3 separate regions of the Homo sapiens genome follow, and regions 2 and 3 are each reported to be linked to region 1. The links are microRNA targets in miRTarBase. Many come from high-throughput screens and were not tested one by one. Region 1 holds a microRNA gene; each other region holds the end of a gene's coding sequence.

Region 1 (3,141 bases):
TTAGGAGGCCAGGGCAGGAGGATTGCTTGAGCATGCGAGTTCAAGATAAGCCTGGGCAACATAGTGAGACCCCATCTCTATTAAAATTTTTTTTTTTTTTTTTTTTTTTTGAGACAGAGTCTCACTCTGTCACCCAAGCTGGAGTGCAGTGGCGTGATCTCGGTTCACTGCAACCTCCACCTCCTGGGTTTAAGTGAGTCTCCTGCCTCAGCCTCTGGAGTAGCTGGGACTACAGGCACGTGCCACCACGCCCAGCTAATTTTTTTTTTTTTGAGACAGAGTCACTCTGTCACCCAGGCTGGAATGCAGTGCCGCGATCTCCGCTCACTGCAAGCTCCGCCTCCCGGGTTCACGCCATTCTCCTGCCTTAGCGTCCCGAGTAGCTGGGACTACAGCTGCCCGCCATCACGCCCAGCTAATTTTTTTATTTTTAGGAGAGATGGGGGTTCACCGTGTTAGCCAGGATGGTCTCGATCTCCTGACCTCGTGATCCGCCCGCCTCGGAGATCCCAGCAGTTTGGGAGGCCGAGGTGGGCGGATCACTTGAGGTCAGAGTTCGAGAACAGCCTGGCCAACAGGGCGAAACCCCATCTCTACTAAAAGTACAAAAATTAGCTGGGTGTGGTGGCAGGCACCTGTAGTCCCAGCTACTCAGAAGGCTAAGGCATGGGAGGCTGAGGCACGAGAATCACTTGAACCCAGGAGATGGAGGCTGCAGTGAGCTGAGATCACGCCATTGCACCCCAGCCTGAGCGATAGAGTGAGACTCTGTCTCAAAAAAAAAAAAAATTGAAAAAAATGAAGAAATGGGAAGTAATCCAGGGAAGGATGATGTTGTATGAAGCTATTGTCTATAGGGTTTGAAAAGAAGGTGAGCACTGGGACTTAGGTAGAGCAAGGACTCTTGCTGTGAACAGAACTCTTCAGGGCCTTTCCACTGACTTTGTTTACACCCTTATGTCCTGGCAGGTTCTAGAGCCTTCTTTCCGCCAGGCCTTTCCCAATACCAACCGCTGGTTCCTCACCTGCATTAACCAGCCCCAGTTCCGGGCTGTCTTGGGCGAAGTGAAACTGTGTGAGAAGATGGCCCAGTTTGATGGTGAGTCTGAGGAGACTGGGAGGCATATGGCCAGGATCAGGGTCTGGTTTGCTCTGCATCAACCCCTTGATTTCCTGTCTTGCTTTTGGGTTATGGGGACCTGCAGAATGTAGGGTGTCAATGTGGTAGCTAATATTATGTGCAGTTTCGTGTACACTCATACCCTGACTAATTTGTATTACTATATAGATTTGCGATATAAAGTATTTGTTGCTGAGTGTGTTGTTGCTGGAGGACACACAGTGAACTGATGAGCAGTCTGGGGCCTAAGTTCCTTACTTGTCCCATTCGTCAGTTTCCTCTGTTACCTTGCTTGCTCTGTGTGGTTTTGGAGGGGTGTGGAAAGAGGCAGAACATTCGTTCACTTTCCTGCCTTCCTCTGCACCAGCTAAAAAGTTTGCAGAGACCCAACCTAAAAAGGACACACCACGGAAAGAGAAGGGTTCACGGGAAGAGAAGCAGAAGCCCCAGGCTGAGCGGAAGGAGGAGAAAAAGGCGGCTGCCCCTGCTCCTGAGGAGGAGATGGATGAATGTGAGCAGGCGCTGGCTGCTGAGCCCAAGGCCAAGGACCCCTTCGCTCACCTGCCCAAGAGGTAAGGATATTGGAGGGTGGAGGGTGTGGGACCAAAGAAGGCCTGTTCTCACCTCTGTATGTCCCCCCTCACACACAGCTAGAGCCAGAATTTTAGGTTGTCCATATAAAGTTAAAGGTATATTTTAGTTGCAAATAAAGCAGCTTTCTGGCTGATAATCAGGAATTGGGCAAATTTTGATTGTGGAGAGCAAGTTTCAAGTACAGCCAGTACTGGGGAAGATTGAACTCCTATTCCAACAAAGACAGGAACAGATTTTGATATAGTGGTAAGTTGGTTTTGAGCAAGCTCATTTGACCATTTGAGAGCTCTGAGAACAAATACAGGGAGAGGCGTGGGGAGGAAGAAAGTGCAGAGAGCCTTGCGGTGCGCCACGCGCCCGGCTGTGCGGAGATAGTGGATGCCAGAGCAGGGTCCTTTGAATTGTTTTGTTTTCTGTTTTGCTGAATCAGACTGTACAAAAATTGCTCACTAAGAAAAAGGATGAAGATCATAGCTAAGTAGTGTCTGTCTAGTTCATTGTTCCACAACCGAGTAAAGTCCCCAAGTAGAAGAAAGTAGGTGTCCTCTGTATCCCTTTTTCAGTTAAAGGTAGGGCTTCTTGGAAGAAATAATATAGTAAAAACGAGATTTTTGGCATGAAAAATGTAGGACGCTGAGTGCTTGCCCAGTTCTCTGGGATGGAGTCTTTCTTCCATCACTGCTCCAAGTCATTTTATTGGGAGTTCAAGCAGTTTGAGAAATATATATTCTGTGGTCACTTTGCTTTGGAACTCCTCTTTCTCTGTACTTTTTCCTCCCACTCACCCTGTCATTTCCAAAGCCGTTCATCTTTTTACTGCTTGGTCTGCTAGGGTTTACATTTCACCCTCTCCCATCTTGTAATGGCTTGGATACCGGGTGAACCAGCCTAAAGGAGCACCCACTGGTAGGGACACAGTAGCTGTGCATAGAATTGTGAATTACAAGCATTGCACTAATAGATGGGAGCAACTTGGGGTATAGCTGAAAGTTCTTACTCCCGGGTATTTTGTACAAGACCAGGAAGGCTCCATCCAGACACAGGCACTCTTTAAAGATGTATTTTTTGAACTAGTGATTTGCCTTGAATTTAGCACAGGTGCAGGTCAAGAGTGAGCAGGATTTTTGGTGTGTGTAAATAGGTCATGATAATTAACCCAAATTACATATTGTGTTGTAACTCAGACGTTGTTAATTATTAGCTAGAGATTTTCACATATAGTAGGTCAGTACTCTGGGCAGGAAATAAATGAGGCAGTAGTAAACTTAAAATCTTTATTTAATAAACTTTACATTTTCTTAACATGGTTTTGGGAATGTTTATTAATGTCTATTTATTGGGTTACCATGATGCCCTACAGGGCTGCCAGAAATGCTTTCCCCAAGGTTTTTTTTTTTGGAAACAGGGTTTTACTTTGTTGTCCAATC
Region 2 (3,141 bases), not on the chromosome of region 1:
TGCAAGGTAGTGTATTTCCTTATTGTTTAAACCACTGGGTTTGGGAAGGGGGGCTTCTGTTGCTGGTGGTCCCAAGTAATTGGATAGTCCCTTTCCTCTAAAATAATATAACCTATTTTGCAGACTAGAGTACACACAGGCATGCGCACACATTGCTTCTGTCTTCCCCTGATTTTTAAATGAAACTAGCTCTTGGGTGAGAACTCACTTGGCCTCCCTCTGTCCTCCAGACCCAAGCTCCTTGGAGCAGTGTGTGTGCTCTGTATTCCCGAAGTACCCACCCCACGCCCCAGCACTGTCAATCACTTCAAGGCCCAGTTCAAAATCCACTTCCCACATAAAGTCTCCTGTTTAACCCCCAGCTGCATCTTTCTAGAATTCTAACATGTAGCGTGCATCGTCTCCAACTTTGTACATCTTGCCTGCTGATCCTCGTGTCCCCTCTGTGTGTCCACCCACCCCAGCCACACCACTGGCGCACAGCAACTGACTGGGCAGATGAGTGAATGCAAGGTCCTACTGTCCTGCACCTGAAACCTGGAGTTTTCCTTTCCTTTTTCTTCCTTGACTTCTTTCCTCATCTTCTCTGTAGAAGAGAAGACAAAAATTGAGATAAAAGAAATTTAGGCCGGGTGCGGTGGCTCGCACCTGTAATCCCAGCACTTTGGGAGGCCAAGGCAGGTGGATTACTTGAGGCCAGGAGTTCGAGCCTAGCCTGGCCAACATGGTGAAACCTCATCTCTACTAAAAATAGAAAAATCAGCTGGGTGTAGTGGTGTACGCCTGTAATCTCAGCTACTCGGGAGGCTGAGGCAGAAGAATTGTTTGAACCCGGGAGGCGGAGGTTGTGGTGAGTTGAGATCACGCCACTGCACTCCAGCCTGAGTGACAAACCAAGACTCTGTCTTAAAAGAAAAAAAGAAAAAAGAAATTCAGAGCTCCGACTCTGAAGGAAGAATAAATATTTTTAAAGAAAGCCAACAATGACATGCCCTACTTACTGGGAGTGACAGATAAGGGAAAGAATTCCAGTGGTACAGGGAAAGCAGCAGCTGGATGCTCCGCAAACCAGCTCCCAATTTTCTGTCTCCCACCACACACTGATCAGATCCACTCTTGAAACTGGGGGGTGGGGCAGGGACATCCTTAAAGCAGAAGTCACAGCAGGAAACACAGCAGAGTCCACCACGCGGCAGACAATCAAGAAACGTCAGGGAATGAGGGGACACAGCATCCTGTGGTGAGGGCTTTGGGCTTGTTCCCTGAAGCTTTTTATTATAAAAACAAGATGAAACATAGATCACATTGCAGTCTCGATTGTAATGAACCTCAGCTGAATGTGCCGACAGCGGAGTATCTGATCTAATGTGGACTTTGAAGCATTTTGAAATGAAAAAATCTTGGGATGTTTTTGTTTTTAAAATTCCTGTGGTTGTTCGCTAAATGGCAAAATAGGGGGCCACCAGCCGGACAGCTCCAGACCACCTACAGAAAGAAAGTCTCAGGCCATTATGAAGGCCGAAACGCTAACAGCCATCTTCTTCTGGGTGCACAGCCCTGCGGCCATCCCCACCGTGAGATGGTAGAAAGGGCGCGTGCAAGGATCAGCACCCAGTGTAGAAACTGACTTGTACCCCGAAGGTATGCAATGCGATCCCAACAGGCTCATTCCAGATATAAAAAATATGTCATCACTTTCATTAGGTAATATTAAACCAACACTAAGAACTTCTGCAAGATCTTTTATATTACACAGTAGAGTTAAAAACTGTAGTAAATGTTCAGATATTTAAATGAGCACCAAACACTACAAAGTGCAACCAACATGGTTCTATTAAAAACTCTCTTTGACTATGGCATTCAAGGACAGCAATACAATCTTTTTTTTTTTAACAAAGCAACTAATATAAAAATCTGCAAATGCCATATATTCATATCTAGGCTATTCTTCTCATATAGGCATGTCATTAGATAGACTTTCTTTCTATTCTTTCCTGAGGTATTTTTTTGTGGTTTACTTTTATTGTACTGCTGGATGCATTATTTTTGATCATCCTTTCCTAAAATGATTTAAAGACCTGCAAATAATTTTATTGCATAGGACACTATTGATGACACATAGAATGGGAGCTGCAAGTATGTGGCATTGGAACAAGCCTTACAAATATTGCATTTTAAGAATACACACATTTTTTACAGTTTGTCTCTTTTAAAAAATTTGAAGTTATAGCTACGACTTAACTACGTACAGTGAAGCATTTTAGGAATGTTAAGTGATTAAAGAAGAAGATGAATGATACAAAGAAAAGAAGCCACCATTCTTGCCAGCTATATATTGTATTCCTTCAAAAGCAACTATACATGCTGCCTTCAGTTCATAGTTAAATATTTCTAGTAATCTGTTTTGGGAGAACAAATGTCTTTCAAGGTTTCAAGTTCCTCTATAAGCTTCTTGTTCTGGACTTCCAGCACTGCAACTCGGCTCTCCAGACATTTTACATATTCTTTCTTTCGACGTCGACATTCTTTGGCAGCTTCCCTGAAAAAAAGCAGAAGCAAAGGGCAAACAAAGCATTTTTTGCATGCTATTGACAAACAGATCAAAGTAAGCTCGGTAAGTGTGATCACGGCTGCATTCCACATCCTGGAACAACATTCCCAATTCAATTTCAAACACTAATCCAAACTGGATTCTTAAGGGTCACACGTGTCCTTCCCACAAGTCCACATGGCAATAAGTAGGACTGCTGCATCTCCTGCCTTGATTAGAGTAAACAAGGTCCAAGTCAAAGACAGTTACTCTACTTTATGGCAATAAAGATCTTTGAGGGCCTTGAGTTCCTCAATGAGAGTCTTGTTTTGGTTTTCAAGCACAGCCACACGATTTTCAAGACATTTGACATATTCTTTCTTCTTCCTGCGACACTCCCGGGCAGCTTCCCTGGAAGCAACACAAGGCAAATGACTACAGGAACAGCCTTCCAACACAATCCACAGTGGGTCAGTGCACTTCTGCCCCCCGAACTCAACAGCCAATCGATCCTAGGTAAGGACTGTACAAAGCCACATAACAAACATAACCAGGCACATGCTTTTTGTAAGATAACCATTAGACAACAGGAATGATTTGAGAACACAGTT
Region 3 (3,141 bases), not on the chromosome of region 1:
TTTGTTTCTGTTGCAATTGCTTTTGGGGACTTGGCCAAAAATTCTTTGCCAAGGCCAATGTTGAGAAGGGTATTTCCTAGGGTTGCTTCTAGGATTTTTATAGTTTGAAGTCTTACATTTAAGTCTTTAATCCATCTTGAGTTAATGTTTGCATATGGAGAAAAGTAAGGGTCCAGTTTCAGTCTTCTGCATATGGCTAGCCAGTTATCCCAGCACCATTAATTGAATAGAGAGTTCTTTCCTCATTGCTTTCTTTTGTTGCTTTGCCCATTTTCTAACTGTTGTGTTTTTCTTTTGTTTACTGATTTGCAAGAGCTTTGTAAATTAAGCATATTAAATTTTGTGTGTTGTATAGTTTGCAAATATTTTTCAAGTTTGTCTTTTCATTTTGAAGAAAATATAATCTAGAATAAGTACATTTTTGGGGTAAAAATTATGGCAATAATTTTTTATATACAAAATTTAGAGGCAAAATGAAAAAATTAGCATTGATTCTACATTTTAAACACAAGGGATTCATGTTTTCTTTCATCCTTTTTTATTTAAAAAACTTCAAAAGAAAATGAAGGGAAATATATATTAAATATCTAATTACTTGGACATATATAATGTATTAATGCATTCTTCTACTGATAGACATTCAGGTTGTTTTCAGTTTGGAGCTTTTTACAAATATCACTGTAGTAATTATCTACATACAGTTTAAACAATTCTTCATATCTTAATAAGTTTTAAAAGGTTTCTCCCACTCTTCCCTCCTGTGTTCCCAAGTACTTTTCTATTATTATCAGAATATGAGGCCCGGCACGGTGGCTAATCCCAACACTTTGGGAGGCCGAGGTGGGCAGATCACTTGAGGTCAGGAGTTAGACACCAGCCTGGCCAACAGGGAGAAACCCCATCTCTACCAAAAATACAAAAAGCAGCCGGGCGTGGTGGCACACACCTGTAATCCCAGCTACTTGGGTTCTGAGGCAGAAGAATCACTTGAACCTGGGAGGTGGAGGTTGCAGTGAGCCGAGATCACTCCACTGCACTCCAACCTGGGCAACAGAGTGAGACTCCATCTCAAAAAAAAAATATATATATATGTATATATGAGTTTGTGATTTCCACAAAATGAATCACTTTATTAATATATTTGGACAGAGTGCCCTGTAAAAGGCATAAGGCATTGCTTGAAGGCAATTTTGCTTATCTAGGGAAGTATATAAAAAATGCATTTCAAAGTTCCTTAGCATATTAATGGTCCTGATAAGTATTGCACGAAATACTAGGTTCCATGATAGGCACAAAAAAGAAAGGATCCAACAGTTAAATAAAATTTAAGGGACCACTACAACCTCCTTTTGGTGAGCCACAAAACTCAATAGTGTAGTAAAACCCCTGAGAATTCCTACACTAAAGCCAACTTTCTAATTTTGCTTATATAGGGTTTTATAAATTTATTTACCAGATAATTTTTCTTCCCTTTAACATCTGTTACCATGCCAAAGTAGTAGTGTTTCCCCTAGGAAAATACTAAAATAAAATAGACAGATTAGCACCACAGATAACCCAAATCTAGATATTACTATCATATAAGTTGTCTTACCTAAACATCAAACATTTCATCAGGGCTTTGGATAAGGAAACAGACTTGGTTCTCTCCTTTTTTAATCTTTGATAATAAATAAAGACACATCACAAATAACTCAGATTTTGAAATGTAGTGCCATGGTGGAAATAGCATGCTTTGAGGTCAGATAGACCTGAGTTACAACCCTAGGTTGGCCACTTACTACATATGCAGACTTGGATAAGTGATTTAACCTCTCTGCATATCAGTTTTCTCATAAGTAAAATGGGAATAGTAACATTCATCTTACAGTTGATGTGAGGATTAAATAAGATCATATATATCAAGTACACACCAAAGTGGCTGGCATATACAAAGTTTTATACAATATGTACACTTGTACACAGCAGAATTTCTGTAAGGGAAAGAACTGAAGACCTGGGAACCCACGAACAGATTGTAAGCTTCTGAATAATTGCTAGCTTTTTTCATGAGAATAGGATTAGAAGTTTCATCCGATCAGAGCTATAAGCTCTATGGTATTTCTATTACTAACATTCTTTTAATATTTAATTACACTGGGTTTATACCTGTGAGTGTTGCAAAAAGAAGGTCGTCGAGCTTTTCACCAGGCCAAAGAGAATCCCATGTGTAAAGTTGTCTGCCACTACTTAACAAACTCATAGCATTTTAGGAGGGTTACAGTGTAGGAAGGATGCTTTTTTGCCCTTAGTGGGGAAGACTAGGTTATTAACTGACATAATGGAGTCAGGCAAAAGAAAGCTATTTGTAATCTGTACCATTTCAGAGACCTGGAATGAAACAGGAGGAGGCTTATAATTCACAGTATGAGAGTAAATAACCTTAACGGAATGTTTGGGTGTCTGGATCCCCGGAGTTTTTTTCAGCACAAGTGACATAAGTGTGAGTTTGCAGGGAATAAGGGCATCTTTTTTTTCAGCACACTGCCAAGGGAAATTATGTATAGAACTTCTGCTTATGCATGCATTACAAGAGTGAAGAATTTAAAATCTTTTTCACCCAGGATAAGAACTTATTTCTTTTCTAGTTCTTCTCCCAAGCCGCCTTCTTAGCAGTCCAGGTGCCACTGTATGTGTCTCCCTCAGAATACTGACCTGTCTGAGAGATGCAGGAAATGTGAAAACTGCTATGTTTCCGTTTCCACAGCAAGAGATGATGAGCCTTCTGGATAATCTGCAAGGTTGAAACGTGAAGATGATCAAATGTCCCCGTGCCTTATATGGGTGGGTATTCATTCACTGGCAGTTTTCCTTCTTGTTCAATCTCTGCAGGCAACAGATACCTGCAAACCTCTAAAGACTGATGTGTAACACAGAAGCATTTGTAACCAGACATTCACATTCTAAGAATAGTCAGCCTGCTATACTATGAACTAAGATTATTTATCAGCATTATCTGATCTATAATACTGGCTGGTATTTGACTTAAATAGCTATGATGACAGCTCAACATAATCTGACTTTAATGGAATGTTTTGCATCTTGCTACCCACAAAATTACCCTGTTTTGCTGTTATTCCACCGGACATAATTGAGTTAGCT

The links. The annotated mature microRNA hsa-miR-6747-3p reads UCCUGCCUUCCUCUGCACCAG and lies in region 1 at 1,467-1,487, shown strand. An mRNA with a match to its seed (bases 2 to 7 or 8) in the 3' UTR can be bound and repressed. Matches are read on the target gene's strand: a 7mer-m8 pairs with bases 2 to 8, a 7mer-A1 pairs with bases 2 to 7 and ends in A, and an 8mer does both.
Region 2: the mRNA of CREM is a reported target of hsa-miR-6747-3p. Seed matches in the 3' UTR shown: 8mer at 2,755-2,762.
Region 3: the mRNA of ZDHHC15 is a reported target of hsa-miR-6747-3p. The part of its 3' UTR that is shown has no 7-base or 8-base seed match.

What each region holds. Positions count from the first base shown.
Region 1 is chr11:62,565,357-62,568,497 of GRCh38, reverse strand. It overlaps MIR6747 (microRNA 6747), which reads left to right and starts at 1,427; the gene lies at 1,427-1,487. EEF1G (eukaryotic translation elongation factor 1 gamma) reads left to right here. Exons shown (of 10, transcript NM_001404.5): 6 at 970-1,099; 7 at 1,488-1,692.
Region 2 is chr10:35,211,054-35,214,194 of GRCh38, reverse strand. CREM (cAMP responsive element modulator) reads right to left here. Exons shown (of 8, transcript NM_183011.2): 8 at 1,242-2,941. The coding sequence ends at 2,797. Among named protein-coding and RNA genes, the nearest start is that of LINC02634, 32 kb to the left of the region's middle. RefSeq lists an enhancer at 2,349-2,908.
Region 3 is chrX:75,376,426-75,379,566 of GRCh38, forward strand. It overlaps ZDHHC15 (zDHHC palmitoyltransferase 15), which reads right to left. Exons shown (of 12, transcript NM_144969.3): 11 at 2,695-2,773. The coding sequence ends at 2,727. Among named protein-coding and RNA genes, the nearest start is that of UPRT, 100 kb to the left of the region's middle.